Regions from separate parts of the Homo sapiens genome. Here region 1 is linked to region 2. Evidence: fine-mapped expression QTL. Tissue or cell type: whole blood. Region 2 holds a variant in brackets; the other region holds the start of a gene. All regions are shown on one strand. Distances are between the middles of the regions.

Region 1 (8,091 bases), 210 kb before region 2:
TTACTAATGTACTTGTTCTTCAGTAAATAGATTGGATAGTTTGTTACTTCCAGAGGAAGACAGTAACCACCAATAGACAGGAAAATGTACCTCTGGTTTACCAAACTTAGTCATAGTCACATTACAGAGTTAATTCTATAATGTTGTGAAAAACACCTGTGTCACAAAAATGTTAATGATCTCTTGACTGCATAGATGAGTTGCGTTCCGGAGTCTTAAGTTGCTTTCTAAATACTAATTAATTAAACCCAAGCTTTCTGTGTCAGGCGATTACTCACTTTTGTCCTTTCCTTAGTCTACCCAAGCTGAATTTCTGATAATATGGTAAGACAAGAATGAAACATAACCCAAAACATAAGCTTCCAGCCACGGTTCTGTGTGGAAATTGCAGCTTAGGAAGATTTTGTCACAATGAGATGGTAACCCCTGCTTCCCCCGGCCATACAGAGGATTGAAGATGTAAGTACCTGGGGGACGCCAGCCACAGTGTTTTACCACCTACTCTTCCAGTAGCTTTGGAAAAGGAAAAAAAAAAGTCACAGAATTGGGGCACACAGGGGAGAGTGCAGCATGAACAATTTTCCATTAATCTGATAAAGAGGGAGGTAGTCTAGGTGCAGCTCTGAGATGCATTTCTGCAGGGGAGCCACTCCCTGAGAGCTTTGTGTTTCCTTCCTGTTAGCGATCTCATGAATAAATAAACTCTCTGCCTGGCACCGATACCTCCAGCCTGCTCTGATTCAACACATTCCTTTGCTACTCTTTCCCACCCCAGTCAGATTTCCTGAAATCTCGAGCCCATTACACGTAAGTAATTAATTTTTCACTCATTAGAATTGGCTTGGAATTCAGTGAGACAGAAAAAAATAGGTGAGGTCCTGGAAGTTAGGGTAAATAATGGTGACGAATTACCCGTCAGCAGACAGTAAAGCAAGACCTAGAAACGGGTCCTCAAATACTAGCTGGCATGGTAATTAATTAATTGTTTAATTAGATACATGTAGCTGTCGCTCTGTGGAGCTCACAACACTGTTTTCGAGACTTGTCTAGGCAAAACTGTGGAGTAGCTCAAAAACGTGACTTTAATCCCTGATGGAAATTTCGGGGGTTTGGCAGAGCTTTTGAAGCCAACAGCCCTGGGAGTCTATTTGATTCATTCTAATAAACATCTATTGGGCACCTTCATTCCTGCCTGGGCAGACATTTGAACCAGGTTTTTACACTTAGGAACACGTAAGATGGCAAGGTGTTCACCAACCACACGTTCCGCAAGGCTGCTCACAGGTGGAGCAGAATGAGACCGAGGAAGGGGCTGCTCCTCTCCGCTCCTGTGCTGGTCTGCACTTCCAGACAGAGGCACTATGCTGTTTGTGGTGTCAGTCAACACAATGGGACAATTATAGATAAGCCAGCCACCAGACAAAACACACACATAAATGACCAATCCCAGGGAGAGCAGGTGGATAAAGAGGTGTGTAATTCCACAGGTGGGAGAGAATCTTTCTAACCAGGAGATTTGGGAAGGCTGCATGGAAGAAGTGGCGTTTGAACTTGGACTGGACTGGGTGAAATTCCGTGTGCGGCTATGACTCAGGTTGTGGGGAAGGGGAGACGACAGGAGGGAGCACATTAGAAAAACAGACACCACAGGTGGGGACTCTCCATGGACAGCTGGGAATTCTGCAGCTGAACCTCGGAGCTTGAAAGAGACGGGAGGAACAGAAAGCAGGAGAAATGTTTAGTGCAGGGCTCGTGAGACCATTGGTGTCAATTAAGGATTTCTTCAGTTTGCAGGCATAGAATCATGGGTTGTACAGCAAGGGGCCTGTGGTCTGTGCTAAGAGGGACTTTTTAGAAGAGTGATCTGACAGCCGTGGTGGGAAGACTGGAAGGAGGCTCTGAAGGCCTGACATGGGCCATAGCCAGAGGCCTCGACAGGAGCAGGTGGCGCACAAGAGAAATGCTGTGGGTAGAAGTTCTTGAGGGGACTCAAAGTGAAAGGGAGGCTGCTCTCAGAAATAATGTACATGGGGGAAAGTATTGGTAGGTAGGATGAGTTTGATTGTGGACAGCATGAATTTCAAGGAGATGGTAGGAGTTCCAGATAAAGATGATATCTATCAGGCTCCTGGAAATGGCAGTCTAAGACCGAGAGCCCACACTCACACGTGTAATGTGTAGGTGCCCAAAGACCTGCTGAAAGGAACCATCAGCTCAAAATCTGAGTTTGCAATTGATGTGTTTAATGCAAATTACAAGTTTTCTTTGCAACCAACATCAGTCATAGGATCATATGCAAATGATTAAGGCCCATCAAAAAGAATATATATATATATATATATATATATATATATGTATTTTTTTTTTTGAGACTGAATCTCGCTCTGTCACCCAGGCTGGAGTGCAGTGGTGCGATCTCGGTTCACTGTAACCTCCACCTCCCGGGTTCAAGTGATCCTCCTGCCTCAGCCTCCTGAGTAGCTGGGACTACAGGTGTGTGCCACCATGCCCAGCTAATTTTTTGTAGTTTTTAGTAGAGATGGGGTTTCACCATATTGACTAGGCTGGTCTTGAACTCCTGACCTCATGATCCACCTGCCTTGGCCTCCCAAAGTGTTGGGATTACAGGTGTGAGCCACCGTGCCTGGCCCGCGAATATATATTTTTTATTCCGACATTATACCGCCCTAAATGGACTTGACACCATTTATTGCTTGGAATGCACAGTGCATCTTTGCTGTAATGAAATGAACTCAGGGCTTTGCTTTGGAGACTGGGGTTTGAATCCTGGTTCTGCTCCCCTTTCTGTCTCTAAGGACTTTTATCTGTGACGTGTAGGGGCTGTGTGGGATCTTCCCCACGGCCCCTGCATTGCTGGTCGGTCTCTTTATCATGCAAAGGGGAGAGATGATGGTGGGGCCACATGCTTGTGCCACCCGTATCTGTTGCATTGAACGCAGTCTGGAGCGAAGGACGAACCCACGGCGCACACCAGGCGGAGGCACACGGCTCGGCGCAGGAAGCACACGGGTTTGGGGTTCCTGTTTCCCAGCTCATCGTCGAATGTCATTCTCACAATTCCCCACTGAAAGGACCGATCCTTACAGGAAATGCACACACCTCTGGCGGTTGCCACCACTGCTAGATCCATGGGAAGGGCAAAGGTGGGTGAGGCATGGGCTCTGTCCTCCAGGCGCTTACACTCACAAAGAATACAGAGAAGATAAAAAAGGTCAAACGTGATGAGGGCGGGAAGTGGCCGGTGCAGGAAGAGAAAGGAGAGAGATTGTTCTGGACCTGGGGTCAGGGATGGCTGTGGGTGGCAGGGGCAGAGAAGGGGCAGGCTCTCCGGGGTGGAGGCCGGGAGCAGAGGTGCTGCGGGTCAGCCGCGTTGTTTGCAGGAGCCGGAGTGTGGAGGCCGCAAGGCTGCCGTGCAGGTGGGTCCCGGCTGGTGGGGGCTCCGGTCGAAGCGGGGTGGGGGGGTGGTGGGGGGTAGGGGTAGGGGGGTGAGGTGGGGGACCTGTGTTCCTGCGGCCCACTCTGAAAGGGGAGTGAGTGCAGCTGGGCCTCCGGGAGCCAGCGCTGGCCAATGTCCCGTGGAGGACGGGGAGGCGAGGAGGTCTTTAGGAAGCTCTGGGCCTAAGGGAGGGGCCGGGCTGGGAAGAGGGGGTACAAGGATGAAAAGGAGGCCAGGTCGTCGGGGCTTTGTGCAACAGACTGGGGAGGATGTGTGGAGACAGAGGAAGGTGATGATGAAGACAACGGGGGCGGTTCTGAGAAGCAGAACTTCCAGTGACTAAGAGTCACTGGAAGCAGCTGGCTTCATTTAGGGTTTGTGGCGTTTGGGGTGTCTAGGGGCTTCCAGGGAAGTTTGCTCAGTGGACGGTTGGAGATGCGAGGGCCTCCCCAGATGGTCAGGACTAGAGGCACAGACGGGGCTTCAGCCTCGCCGAGGTGGCACTGAGGCTGGGAGCTGATGGCCCCACAAGGAGAAGGACGGTGGGAACCCTGGGGCCTGCAGCCTGTTCCGGGAGGGCTGGAGCCAGGCTTTTCGGGCCCACCTGGCATTTGGAGATTAGGTGACCCAACCTTGTCTTCCCATCCCCTTTTCACAGATGGGGACACTGACCCTCCAGGCAAAGGCTCAGAGTCGCTCAAGGTCATCTGCTGGTCGTTGCATTCGAAACTTCCAGCCTAGCGCTCCGTCTCCGCCTCTTAAAATGTTCATTAACAAAAAACCAGCCCTCCAAGACCCGGGGCACTGCGAGTTTTCGCGCAGACGTCAAGCTGCGGCTCCAGGACGTGATTTTCGCAGGGAGCCGGGTGGACCAGGCTCTGGGGCCGGGCCCGCAGGCTCCGCTGGACGCGCAGAGCCCAGGACAGACAAGACCGCCCCGCCCCGCCCCGCCCCGCGGGCCCCGAGCCCCCAACCCGCCCCCGAGCGCGCCCCCGGGAGCGCGCGCTTCGCCGACGCGGCCGCGCGCCCCCCCGCGCGCTCCCGCTCCTGCGCGTCCTCGCGCCCCGCGCGCGCGCGCCCTGCCCCCGCGGCCCCGTGACGCGCGCGCGCAGAGACGCTCCCGCCGGGCCGGGGCCGAGAGCAGCAGGGCCGGGTCCGGGTCCGCAGCGCCTGCGGGGAGGGGCCGAGCGCGCGCGGGGCGGGCCGGGGACCGTGGGGCGCGGGGGCGCGCGAGGCGGCCGTGGCGGGGCCGCGCTGAGGAGGCGCCGAGGGGAGGGAGGTCCCTGCGCGCCCGCCGCCCGCCTCCCGCGCCCGCGCCGCCGCCTCCTCCTCGGTGCGGTTCCGCCGGGCGCGAGGAGCCGCCGAGACCTCCGCCTGCGAACAAAGAGGAGGCCGTGCGGGGCGCGGCGCCCGCGGAGCATGGCGGACCGCAGCCTGGAGGGCATGGCGCTGCCCCTGGAGGTGCGGGCGCGCCTGGCCGAGCTGGAGCTGGAGCTGTCGGAAGGTAACCGGGCCCCCGCCCCGGGCCGGGCCGCGCTGTCACCGGGGAGGGCCGCGCGCGGAGGGCTGGGGGCGCGGGGCCTGCGGCGGGGCGGGGGCCGGGCCCGGAGGGGGAGGTGCGACCCCAGCCCGGAGCGTGCGCGTCCCCCGGACCCCCAGACCCCGCGCCCTAGGGACGTTTGTGAGGCCGCGATCCCCCGCGCTCTGGGGACGTTTGTGGGGCCGCGATTCCCCGCGCCCTGGGGGTGTCTGTGGGGCCTGGGATCCCCTCGCGCTCTGGGGGTGTTTGTGGGGCCGCGATCCCCCGCGCCCTGGGATGTTTGTGGGGCCGCGATCCCCCCGCGCCCTGGGGGTGTCTGTGGGGCCTGGGCGCCGCGCGGGGACGCAGGATGCAGCGGGCCCGGCGGGATCGGCCTTCCCGTGCGCTCTGCGCTGGAGCCGCGGCGTCCTTGGTGCAGCAGCGCGGTGCGCGCCACCTCCTCGCTGGCGGGTTCGGCCTGGAACGCCCGGCCAGATTTCAATGCGAAACTTGTCGTTGGACCCCGGGTTCGATCTCTGGTGGCTCAGGCCGTGCAGCGGTCCTGGCGCGGCCCGGGGGATCCCACCCCCATTGTTCGCGGGCGCTGCGCGGGGAGGGCTGGGCGGAATCGTCAACCTCCCCCCGGGCCGGGCTCCGGCCTTGCCGTCCTGGTCCTCTCGTAGGAGGGTTTGTGGCAGATCAGCCACCGCGGTCTTATGGAGGGTTGTGTACGCCTCTTATTTGCTCTTCATGGCGGAGATCATGTGCTCAACTGTCATAAGTTTCAGATCGGGCTTTGCCAGGTCTTTTCCCCAAAACCACTGAAGTTCCCAAATCTGAAATGTTTGATGTGCATTTAGCCGTCTCTGGGCTCATCCTGGTCAGGCCATTCCTGTAACGTGGGGTGGGGTGGGGGTGGGCCGGCGCGTCTCACATTTATATTTGGAGCAGTTTAGCATGGTGAACTTTTTTTGGGTAACGGTTTTGTGAGGGCCGGCAGCCAGAAAGTAAACTCATTCGTGCCAATTTTCACCGGCAGGGAGGAGCTGGTGTTGACTTTATGTTTTCCTTTTTAACACTTTCAGGGCAAAGAAGGGAGTGAGCAGGGGCCATGGTGTGCAGCCAACTGCCTTTCCAGACTTCTGGGGACGGGAAATGGTACTGTTTTTCAGTTTCAGATGTGGGGTTCCGCGAGGTGTGTCAGTGTCCTGTAACGTGACACAGTTGGCGGGGGGCAGAGTCTTCCAGGCCTGTGGGCTTGGCTGCTGCCCTCCTGAGGAGCTGAGGATGAGGAGGGCATGGCTAGGAGGCGGGAGCTGCCGTGTGCAGGGTTCGGATGTAAACTGGTAAGTAGATTGTGCAGTGCAGACAGCTCGTTTGGTGGGTAAGGAGTGTATCATTTGCAAAAGGCCCACCCTGGTTATCTGATTGTGTCAGCCTTGGGTAGGTTTCCCGGCTTGCGTCTCGGCCCAGGTGCACCCCTGCCTGCAGCACCCTCCGTGTTCGCTGTCTCAGGACAGGGGCTTCTGTGCTGCCTGCATCACACTGATGTGAAGTGTCAGTGCCCCATCCAGGTCAGCAGAGCGTAGCGCCCCTGAGCTCAGCAGGGCGAGCCCCATCTGAGGGTTCCCCCACCCACTGCTAGCCCAGAAGTTGGACCCACATTTGTTCCCAGAGTCTGGGATGTCTATGGGAATGGGTGTCCTGTGTTGGGCATTGTGGCCTTTTGAGGTGACGACACTTGCCTGTCAGTTGCTCTTGGAGGGTGAGTGATACTGTCTTGCTGCCCAGATGATGGCAAAGCCACTTTCGACGAAGGTGTGCTCAGCCGAATTCCCTGTGAACACCTTGCGTCTGTACAGGTTTTTTAAAAAGGGCTTAATGAGTTAGTTTCTTATTGAGAGACCAGGCAGAGAAAGGGGTGTGTGTGTTTGCATGCAGGAAGCCTAATTATATTTTTCCTTCCACATGAATCTTGCTGAGATCTGAGCTACACATTTAAGAAGAAAGGGTGAGAGGGTTGCTCCGTGGCTCTATTCAGCCTCTCTGCACCCTCCGGCCTGTGCTGGCCCCACTGCCTCATCTGTTTGCTGGATGGTCTTTAACTTTGCTGTGAAGTGTGGGTTTGCCCAGGTTGAGTTTATGGGGGTAGTGCTGTAAGGTCATTTGGAATTCTCTGTCTCATAACCACATAAAACAGTTTTACAGGCTTAAATTAGATGAATCAACTTGTTTTCCAGTATTGCTTAATAGAAATCCAAGAATTGAAGGATCAAAATTCTGTGTTTCTTTATGTTATTGGACTTCAAAAATTCCTCAATGTATCTGCTTTCAGAGTGAAAGCTGAAAACAGCTGTTAATGCTGAATTATTTCCCATCTTCAATCAAAATTCAAGTGGAGAGAATTCTTTAAGTTGGTTGTCATCATTTTATTAAAATATCAGAAAATATTATAGAAACATATGTGGAATTTCCAGTGCTCATTTCCTACAGAGGAGGATGGAAAAAGTTCCGTTTTAAGCACATAACATAGACTGAAGGAAAGAGTAGAGCATTCCCCTGAGGTTCCTGTGTGGGCTGCCAGCCTGCGTGGGTTACGCATTGTGTGGGTTTCTAGACCCTGGTCCAGTTCTGCTGTGCCCGCCTGCTGGGCGCCATTACATGCACTGCTGGTGTCCTGCTTTGCAGGGCTGCAGGGGCACTTCCTGCTGCGGGGCCGAGGGCTCCATCCTTCTTCCACTGCCTGTCCCTGTCCCGTGCCCTGTGCCCCCTCACAGGGGAAGGTGAGGCCAGCTCACACCACAGAGCATGCGGCCAGCAAAACACAAGGGCTCTCTGTGGGGAGAAGTGCTGGGCAGCCCTCTTGTGGGAGCTGATGGCCTCGAATCCATGTGGGGATACATTCAGGTTGTGTGGCCAGGGGGGTCATCTCCTCACATACTTGGGTCTGAGTGTGAGCCAGGGAGGAGGCCATGCAGGTAAGGAGGCCACACGGTCAGGAGGCTGTGTGGGTGGGGAGGTTGTGCGGGTGGGGAGGCTGTGTGGGTGCGGAGGCTGTGCAGGTGGGGAGGCCATGAGGGTGCGGAGGCCCCTCGGGTGAGGAGGCTGTGCAGGT
Region 2 (8,105 bases):
TTGAGAGATGATAGTAACCTAGGATTTATTAAAGTCTTGTCTGGAAATTTTCTTTGCTGATTGACTGGGGGCTCGATTTAAATCAAGCACGTGCACATGTGGCTGCTTCTGTGGTTCAGATTTTGGACATTGTTTGTAAAACGGGTTAACAAGGCATTTCCAAAAGCAACTGAGCGTCTCCGTAGTGGGCAGCTGATGGCTGCCGGTGTGGAGTGCCCGGCAAGCTTTAACATTTCTGCAGAAATTGTCCTTTGTTGTCAGTGGCCAGCTACCTAGTTAGCATCGGCTGGGCACGGTGGCTCACGCCTGTAATCTCAGCACTTTGGGAGGCTGAAGTGGCAGATCATGAGGTCAGGAGATGGAGATCATCCTGGCTAACATGGTGAAACCCTGTCTCTACTAAAAATACAAAAAATTAGCCGGGCGTGGTGGCCAGCGCCTGTAGTCTCAGCTACTCGGGAGGCTGAGGTAGGAGAATGGTGTGAACCCAGGAGGCGGAGCTTGCAGTGAGCTGAGATCACGCCACTGCACTCCAGCCTGGGCGACAGAGAGAGACTGTCTCAAAAAAAAAAAAAAAAAAAAAAAAAAAAAACACTCATTGATGGGCGGATGCGGGTTCCGTGTCATTTGGTTCTTGGCTCCGTGTTGAGACGTCAGCCTTGTGTTCCGTGGGGGAGACGAGAACCTGTATCATGAGCTGTGAGTTGGTGGAGGCAGCCGTGGAGGCAGAGGCAGCATCCGAGACTGCCCGCCTTTCACTAGGAAAAGTGAGTTGACCAGCTTGTGTGTGTACCTTGATAACTTTTCATTCATTTGCTATATTTTTGTTAAAGCTTGAATTTTTCACTCTTCTTGGAATTATGGTTTGATCAGTCTTAGAAAACAATACAACAGATCCAAAAAAATGAACAGCGAATGAGTATTCTGTGTGTGCTGGAGCTTGTGAATGGGAAGGGCCTCTGTGTGTCGATGAGGTGGCTTTGTCCTGTGTGCTTGCGCTGGCTCCAGGAAAGGCATGGCTGCTGCGCGTCCGTGGCTGTCTGTGAGCTTTAACATGTGGATTCTTGCCTCACCACAAGCACCTTTCTCTTGTCTTCTGGATTTCTGCAGGTTTCACACCTTTTGCTTCTTCCCTTAGCCTTTGTCACTCCTTTTTCAAAAACACTGTGGCGGCTTCAAGTCCTTGTGACCGACCTGCTTGGTTAGAAAACATCTTGTTAATGAAGAAGATGCCAATAGGTGCTGGTGTCGGCCATCCCGGCCCTGGCAGCTGCAGGATCTGTCGTTGACTGAGTTAACGAGAGCCCCGGCCACCAGGCTTGGCTTCCTGTGCCAGCGGGTGGGGATGAGATGGCAGGGGTCTAACCCTGGACCCCATCCGGATAAATACAGAAGGGGCCAGAAACAGGCGTGTGTTTAACAAATGAGTTTTAGTGACTTACATGCTGTGGGCTTTTGTTCGAGAGCAGGGGAGGAACTGAAGTTGTTTGATGTGCAGTGCTTGCTTTTAAAATTCTAACAATGAGGCACACAGAAGATACTGTGATAACTGTGTCTTCTTGGGCACCGTTGAATGATAATGCTCTATCCACGGAGACCATACTGAACTTCATTTTCCTTCTCTTGCAGGTGACATCACACAAAAAGGATATGAAAAGAAGAGGTCAAAGTTAATTGGAGCCTACCTTCCGCAGCCTCCGAGTAGGTAACCCCCATGAGTAGCATGAGTCCTCTCATTTCCCGCATTCACTATGTGCCAGAGAAACATCTGGAGGCAGACGCTCCCTTGCTTCCCAGTCGGCAGGAGGAGGCGTCTGGCGTTCACCCTCCAGGCATTCAGTTCCTTTGAGTGATCACACGTGCTGTGTGAATATACAAGGCACAGAGGATTTTTCTATAAGTGTGCCTAATAGGTGTTTTCTCTATAAGTAGAGATCGGTATTGGGTTGGTTACTTTAAAATGCTATAATCGTAAAAATATGAGTGCATTAGTGATTTCAACATATTTGGTTTAGAGAGCTATTTATTACTATTGATTCTGGTTTAATCCAAGGCTTCTGTTGGTGGCACAGGCCAAATCTAGACAGTGCTGTGATACCCCGCCCAGGACTTGGCAATCGTGAAAGCTGGTTGTGTGTTGAGATGTGGTTGCAAACATCCATGATGATTCTTGAGAAGGGCAGTCGGTTTCCCGCCAGCGTTTCTACGTGTGCAGATTGGCAGCTTTCCTGCACTTGAGCTGGGTTCTGTAAATGTCAGGAAAAAGAATCTCATATTAGATGGGGATTCTAGCACCTCAGTTCCCAGCTGGCAAGCTCAATTCAGCCCAAGAGCGACCTTGAAAATTTGGTAGGCTTGAGGAATGGCTTAAAGCTAACACAAGCAGTTTCTTCCTCAAACATAAAGGCTAGCAACATAAATTTTAAAGGTGGAAATTGAACTTGCATAGTTCTTACCATTGAAAGAAGATTTTAGAAGGTTTAAGGATGCACATGTCCACACCTGCACAAACCCCGATTCTGTTCTTCCCGAGGCCCGTCCGGGTCCTGTTGACTCAGTAAGGAAAGTTTCCTGAGGCTCAGGCTGCAGGAAACGGTGTGGAGATTCTGCTATTGGTAGTTTTGTTTTCATTTCGTGTTTTTCTTGCCTTGATTTTTGAGACAGTGATGTAACAGTGAACATGTTTCTGTGGACCTTGCTTAGCAGAGGCTTAAGTCAGGGATAGACGCCGAGGAACCCGAGAGAAGGGGAGCAGAGGGCTGGGCTGGAATGCTGGGGCGAGAGGCTTCAGGGCAGTGCTGGGTAGATCCCCTGATGGCCTGCGCCCCCTCCCTCATTCTCTTCTCGCAGAGCCATGGGGCGACAGCTGCCCCCGCCCTGTCCCTGTGAGTTCCCCTCTGCAGGTGCCCTCATGTGCTGCAGAAGGTGGGGTCTGACTGTAGGCCACGGACGCTGTTGGTTTTAACTTTCTTGCCTTGCCAAACAAAAGTGAAACAGAAGCGGTTCCTCGCTTGCCAGGACGGTTCTCCAGCGCACCGTGCCTCCCGCGGTGGCCCTGGCCTTAGCCGGGCGCAGAGGGCGGTCGTGCCCTGTGGTCCCCTTGGTGGTCTGTGTGCTGTCCTGCATGGGGTCGGCAGCTCTGCTCAGCGCTGTAACAAATTTAAAAAAAACTAAAGTTTGAATTAATTAGTTTTTTTTCAACTTGTTACAGCAGCGAATGGAGCTGCCGTGGTTCGGTGTAGACTGCAGCACAGTGAAGGAGCGCCGAGGAGAACATTCCGCTCTGCCCACATCGGGGTGTGCGACGTCCGAGAAGCTGCGGCT[C/T]GGGAGCGGGTGGCCAGCACCGCAGGGAACCGGCCTCTGTTTTACTTTCGTTTCGGTGAGCGCTGCTTTGCTGAGAGCCAGCCCCACAGCAGGGTACACATTAGAAAAGGGCCACCCGCCGAGTGCCATCCCGTACAGACGTGTAGGGTGTGGCCTTGGGGGCCTGAGGGTCCCATTCTCCAGTGAGCCAGGTCGCTCCACAGGCCCAGAGCTCGCCAGAGACCAGGTCTGTCCCTGTGAATCAGGGCCCAGTTCTGCGTTTCCTATTGAAGTAGAACGTTGCTTTTACAATTCCCCTTTCTCAGTTGGGCACCACTTAGAAAACACTTAAGAAGAATGCGTGACAAATTATAAAACTTCTTAAAGCCACTGGTATTCTACAGACTTTCATCTTATAGCCAAAGACCCAATTAAAGGATGAGCTGATGGGTCTTGGCCTCTGAGATCTGCTAGAAGGAGTGATTTTGAGATTTCCATCTCCAAAGAGCAAAGTAAGGGTTTTTGAAATAGAAAAAGCAGTTAATCATAGAGTATGTTCTTAGAGGTAAGGATTCTGTTCAAAGGTAAGAATTACTTTGGCGGACAGTATTTTGAATACAGGAATTTCATGATGCAAAAAGGGAGTTCAGTGCATTTTCCACCAGAATGAAGAAAATCATATGCAGGTGGAAGTTTTAGGTTCGTGTTCAGGGTTACACTTCAAAATGTGTTTTAAAATCACATACAAGGCCGGGGGTGGTGGCTCACGCCTGTGATCCCAGCACTTGGGGAGGCTGAGGAAGGGGATTGCTTAGGTCCAGGTGTTTCAGACCAGCCTGGGCAACAAAGGGAGTCCCCGTCTCTACAAAAGAAAAAATTAGGCATGATGGTGGGTGCCTGTGATCCCAGCTATATGGGAGGCTGAAGCAGGAGGATTGCTTGAATCCAAGAAGTCAAGGCTGCAGTGAGCTATGATTGTGGCACTGTGTTCCAGCCTGGGGGACAGAGCGAGACCCTGTCTCAAAAAAAAAAAATTGGTAAAATGAAGTCATAGAGGCAAACTTTATTATTACAGTTGGCCACTGGGGTCTCAGAAGAGGACACCCCGCCTCGCCTCCTGGCCTCCACTGCGTTCCTCCTCTCTGGGCCCTCTCAGGAGCCCTCTCTGGGCTGATTCCCTCGCACCCTCTCAGGAGCAAGGGGCAGAGCTGATGAGAAGGCGACAGGGCTGGGTTTTAGCCACGAGGTCCATTTCAGAATTTATCTGCCGGAAACGTGAGGAAAACAGGAGAAGGACGGCCCGGGCCGCCTGATTGAGGCCCAGACACCAGACTCAGGATGGGGGGACTCCGGACAGCGGTGCTAGGGCCCCAGCGAGGCTGTTTCCCTGCCGACCTTCATTTGGAGACGTTGCTTGTGACACGCAAGTGTGCACCATGTGCAGCTGTCCTGGGAAGCAGCAAGGAACGCAGACGTTTCCAAAGCCGAGGCTGCTTTCTTGGTTGGCCCCATGGGACGTGACTTCCTTTGTGCAGGATCTTCGTGGAAAACATCTTTCTTTCTTGTTCCCCTGTGCTGCTGCGCACTTGCCTGTAAGGGGTTTGTGTTCTGATTAACTTCCACCCTTTTTTCCTAACATTTACATTCCTATTCCTCCAGAAACTATTCTAAAAGTGTTTCTAGGATGTTGTTTGGGATGCAGAATTACGAGCTACAATGGGGGTTCTGTTCCCTAGGCCAGCCAGGCACGTCCCAGCTGCTCAGGAGGGCAGCGTCTGTCGGGGCCTCCAGTCGGGATTCAGAAGTGAGCGTTGGTGCTGAGCACCTGCCTAAATCTAGTTGAGGAAAAGACTGTCCGGAGCCAGGAAGAAATGTGAGTTATACATGCAGTGAAAGAAGGGTCAGAGAGGGTGCCTGGAAGATCATCTTCAGGGAGAAGACGCTGCTTAGGGAAGCTGCCCACTTCGCTCTCACCCTTCTGCGGTTCAAACCCATCCCTCATCAGTCTCTAAGCCCAGTCAAAGTTGTAAACCTAGGAAATAAAATCCACTGCCTGGCAGCCTCTTCAGAGAGATCTTAATAACAGTGTCGACTTGGATAACAAGGCCTCACTGCTTGTATGACACAGGCCGTGGAGATTTAGAGAGTAAAATTTCAGTGTGGCTATAAATGGTGGAACCTTCTTTGCTCAGATACAGCTCCTCTTTCTCACAGCAACTTCTTATGTGTTTGTCTGTGAAATGTTTCTTGGTATTGAGTGATTTATGAAGATCTGGTATTCCTCTCCAAGCCCAGCTTGCTTTTCCTTCAATAGCCGGACAGCTTGATGCCCAGGTGCAAGTTACAAGGACTCTGTAAGGGGGTTTGTCTGTGCGGCACAGCCTCTCTCCATGAGGTCACGTGAGCGGCCTCTCCAGGGAAGAGGTATCCGTGGTCAGTGTGAGTTAAGCCCCACACTTTTTCCATCATGGGGTCGCGTGAGCAGCCTCTCCAGGAAGAGGCCTCCCATGGTCAGTGTGAGTTAAGCTCTACACTGTCTGCACCGGAGGCCTCTGGCCTGCAGGCTTGCACTGTGCTGTCCAACTGTTGAGTCAAATCACAAATACGGACTTGTCTCAGTTCCTCCCTGCTACCAGGGCTCCCGATGGCCACGCCGCTGTCCCTCCCGACAGCCATGCCGCTGCATCCACATGAGGAACTCTGCTCAGGCCGTGCACTTGGCCGTGTCCAGGTGGCATTTAAAGCTCAGTTTGGATGCTCTGTCCTGAGGGATTTCTCCCCTGATCCTTCAGTCAGACCATCCGGATTCCCATCTCCATGTCGTCCTGTCTCTGAAATACCACTGTCATAGTTGGGTGGTGGTTACTAAACGCTAAGTCTCCACCCCAACCCCCAGCAGCAGTATGTAAATCACCTGAGGCCCCGGCTGCCTGCTCACGGAAAGTGGACATTGGGCAGGTATTTGCTGTATGGATGTGTGGGTGCGGCACGGAGGGGCTGAGTCTGCCTGTGGGGGTGGGCCGGGGCAGCCCTCACTTCCCCCCGCCCCACTGAGTGACCGTCCCTACCGTGGTACGAGGATGGATGTGCAGTGTCCCTGAGGGCAGACGCCACCGTGTCCGCATGATGCTCAGATCCACGTGAAGCCCTGAACAGGCACCGGAGACCTTCCACTGCCTCAGGTGTCTATCTGGGCTGCAGTTTTATTTTTATTCTTGATTTGGGTAAATTTAAATGGCAGATGGTAACATGTAAGGGCTAATTAATGACTGAAATGACAGAGGGTAACATGTACCTCAGCACCATCCAATCAGTGGAATTTTATTATCTTTTCAGAACTTGGCTCCCATCCCAGTGTTTGATCCTGTGACTGGATCACATGTTCTCATGAGAACAGCTGCTCTGGCCTGAGTGCTGTTGCTTGCAGTGGCTGCCTTGCCCTGTCGCCACGGAGAGGGCTTCCTCTGAGGTCCCGTTGCAGATTCTCCCACTGGGCTTTGACAGTTGTGAGGGAGGAGGTCCCTGCAGTTGGCATTTGTGAATTTTGCACTTTGGTTACATACGGAATGAGAAAGTTTCTTAAGTACGTAAATGCCATTTTGTTCTGTCGTCTTTAGAAGACGTGGCTGGCTGGCCCTGGCCTGTTCACCTGGGCTGGCCGTTGGTTGTTCTGATTCCTCGTGTCAGCAGAGGCTGTGCTTTCCCGGGGCAGGTGCGCAGTGGGTCCGTATTCTTGTTGTGCCATGAGAGTTACAGTCTGGTGACCCCAAGGCAGCGCTTCCTAGACGTGCTGGGGAGGGACCGCCTCCTCACCTGGGCTGGAGGGTCCCGGGGACCTGTCCCGGGCAGGTTGCCTCCACTTAGGGTCTCAGGCCATGTGGCAGCTCACAGGGTAAGGGTGTTTTAAACTTAAATCCCAGAGGAGGGGAAACGTGGGTGTCCAGATGGCATTGCCTGTGACATAGCGTGAATCTTTCTAGACCGCGTTGCTGTAGTGACAGGTGAATCACCTGTGTTCCAGATCAGCCGTGCTCCCGTCGGCACTTCACAGGGTACCACGCTTAGCTGCCGGAGACGTGTTCTGCCACAGGGAGCTGTCAGTTTGATCCCGTACGTTTATTTCCTGGTCTTTTCAGCAACATTTAATGAATCGCATTCCTCGTCTTAGGCGCCAGCCGCTATGGAGGGAGTGCAGCTGAGCCTACGCCATGCGGTGTGTCTCCAGTGGGGAGGGTAGCACCCACTTTGGAACTGCTCACGTGGGTTTTGTGAAAAATCCGAGGTGTAAGCAAAGTGCAGAAACGTGAAGGCCCGGTCCTGATGGTGAGATTGGCATCTCATCCAAGGAGCGTGGACTGGAGCTCGGGCTGGTAGATGAGACCGTCATCCAGTGAGCATGGACCAGGGCTCAGGCTGGCGGGTGAGACTCATCCAGTGAGCGTGGACTGGGGCTCAGGCTGGTGGATGAGTCTTATCCAGTGAGCATGGACCGGAGCTCAGGCTGGTGGATGAGACCCTCATCCAGTGAGCATGGACCGGAGCTCAGGCTGGTGGATGAGTCTTATCCAGTGAGCATGGACCCCGGAGCTCAGGCTGGTGGATGAGACCCTCATCCAGTGAGCATGGACCGGAGCTCAGGCTGGTGGATGAGACCCTCATCCAGTGAGCATGGACCGGGGCTCAGGCTGGCGGGTGAGACTCATCCAGTGAGTATGGACCGGGGCTCAGGCTGGCGGGTGAGACTCATCCAGTGAGCGTGGACCGGAGCTCAGGCTGGCGGATGACACTCATCCAGTGAGCGT

The links. PIP is the estimated chance that this variant, and not a neighbour inherited with it, causes the effect.
Region 1: DIP2C starts here. The variant in region 2 is fine-mapped to the expression of DIP2C in whole blood (TOPMed, PIP above 0.99).

What each region holds. Positions count from the first base shown.
Region 1 is chr10:686,364-694,454 of GRCh38, reverse strand. DIP2C (disco interacting protein 2 homolog C) reads left to right here and starts at 4,787. Exons shown (of 37, transcript NM_014974.3): 1 at 4,787-4,961. The coding sequence starts at 4,877. RefSeq lists an enhancer at 3,477-4,412.
Region 2 is chr10:480,055-488,159 of GRCh38, reverse strand. DIP2C (disco interacting protein 2 homolog C) reads left to right here. Exons shown (of 37, transcript NM_014974.3): 2 at 1,630-1,701. Among named protein-coding and RNA genes, the nearest start is that of DIP2C-AS2, 140 kb to the left of the region's middle. The variant C/T (reference allele first, on the strand shown) is at 3,325.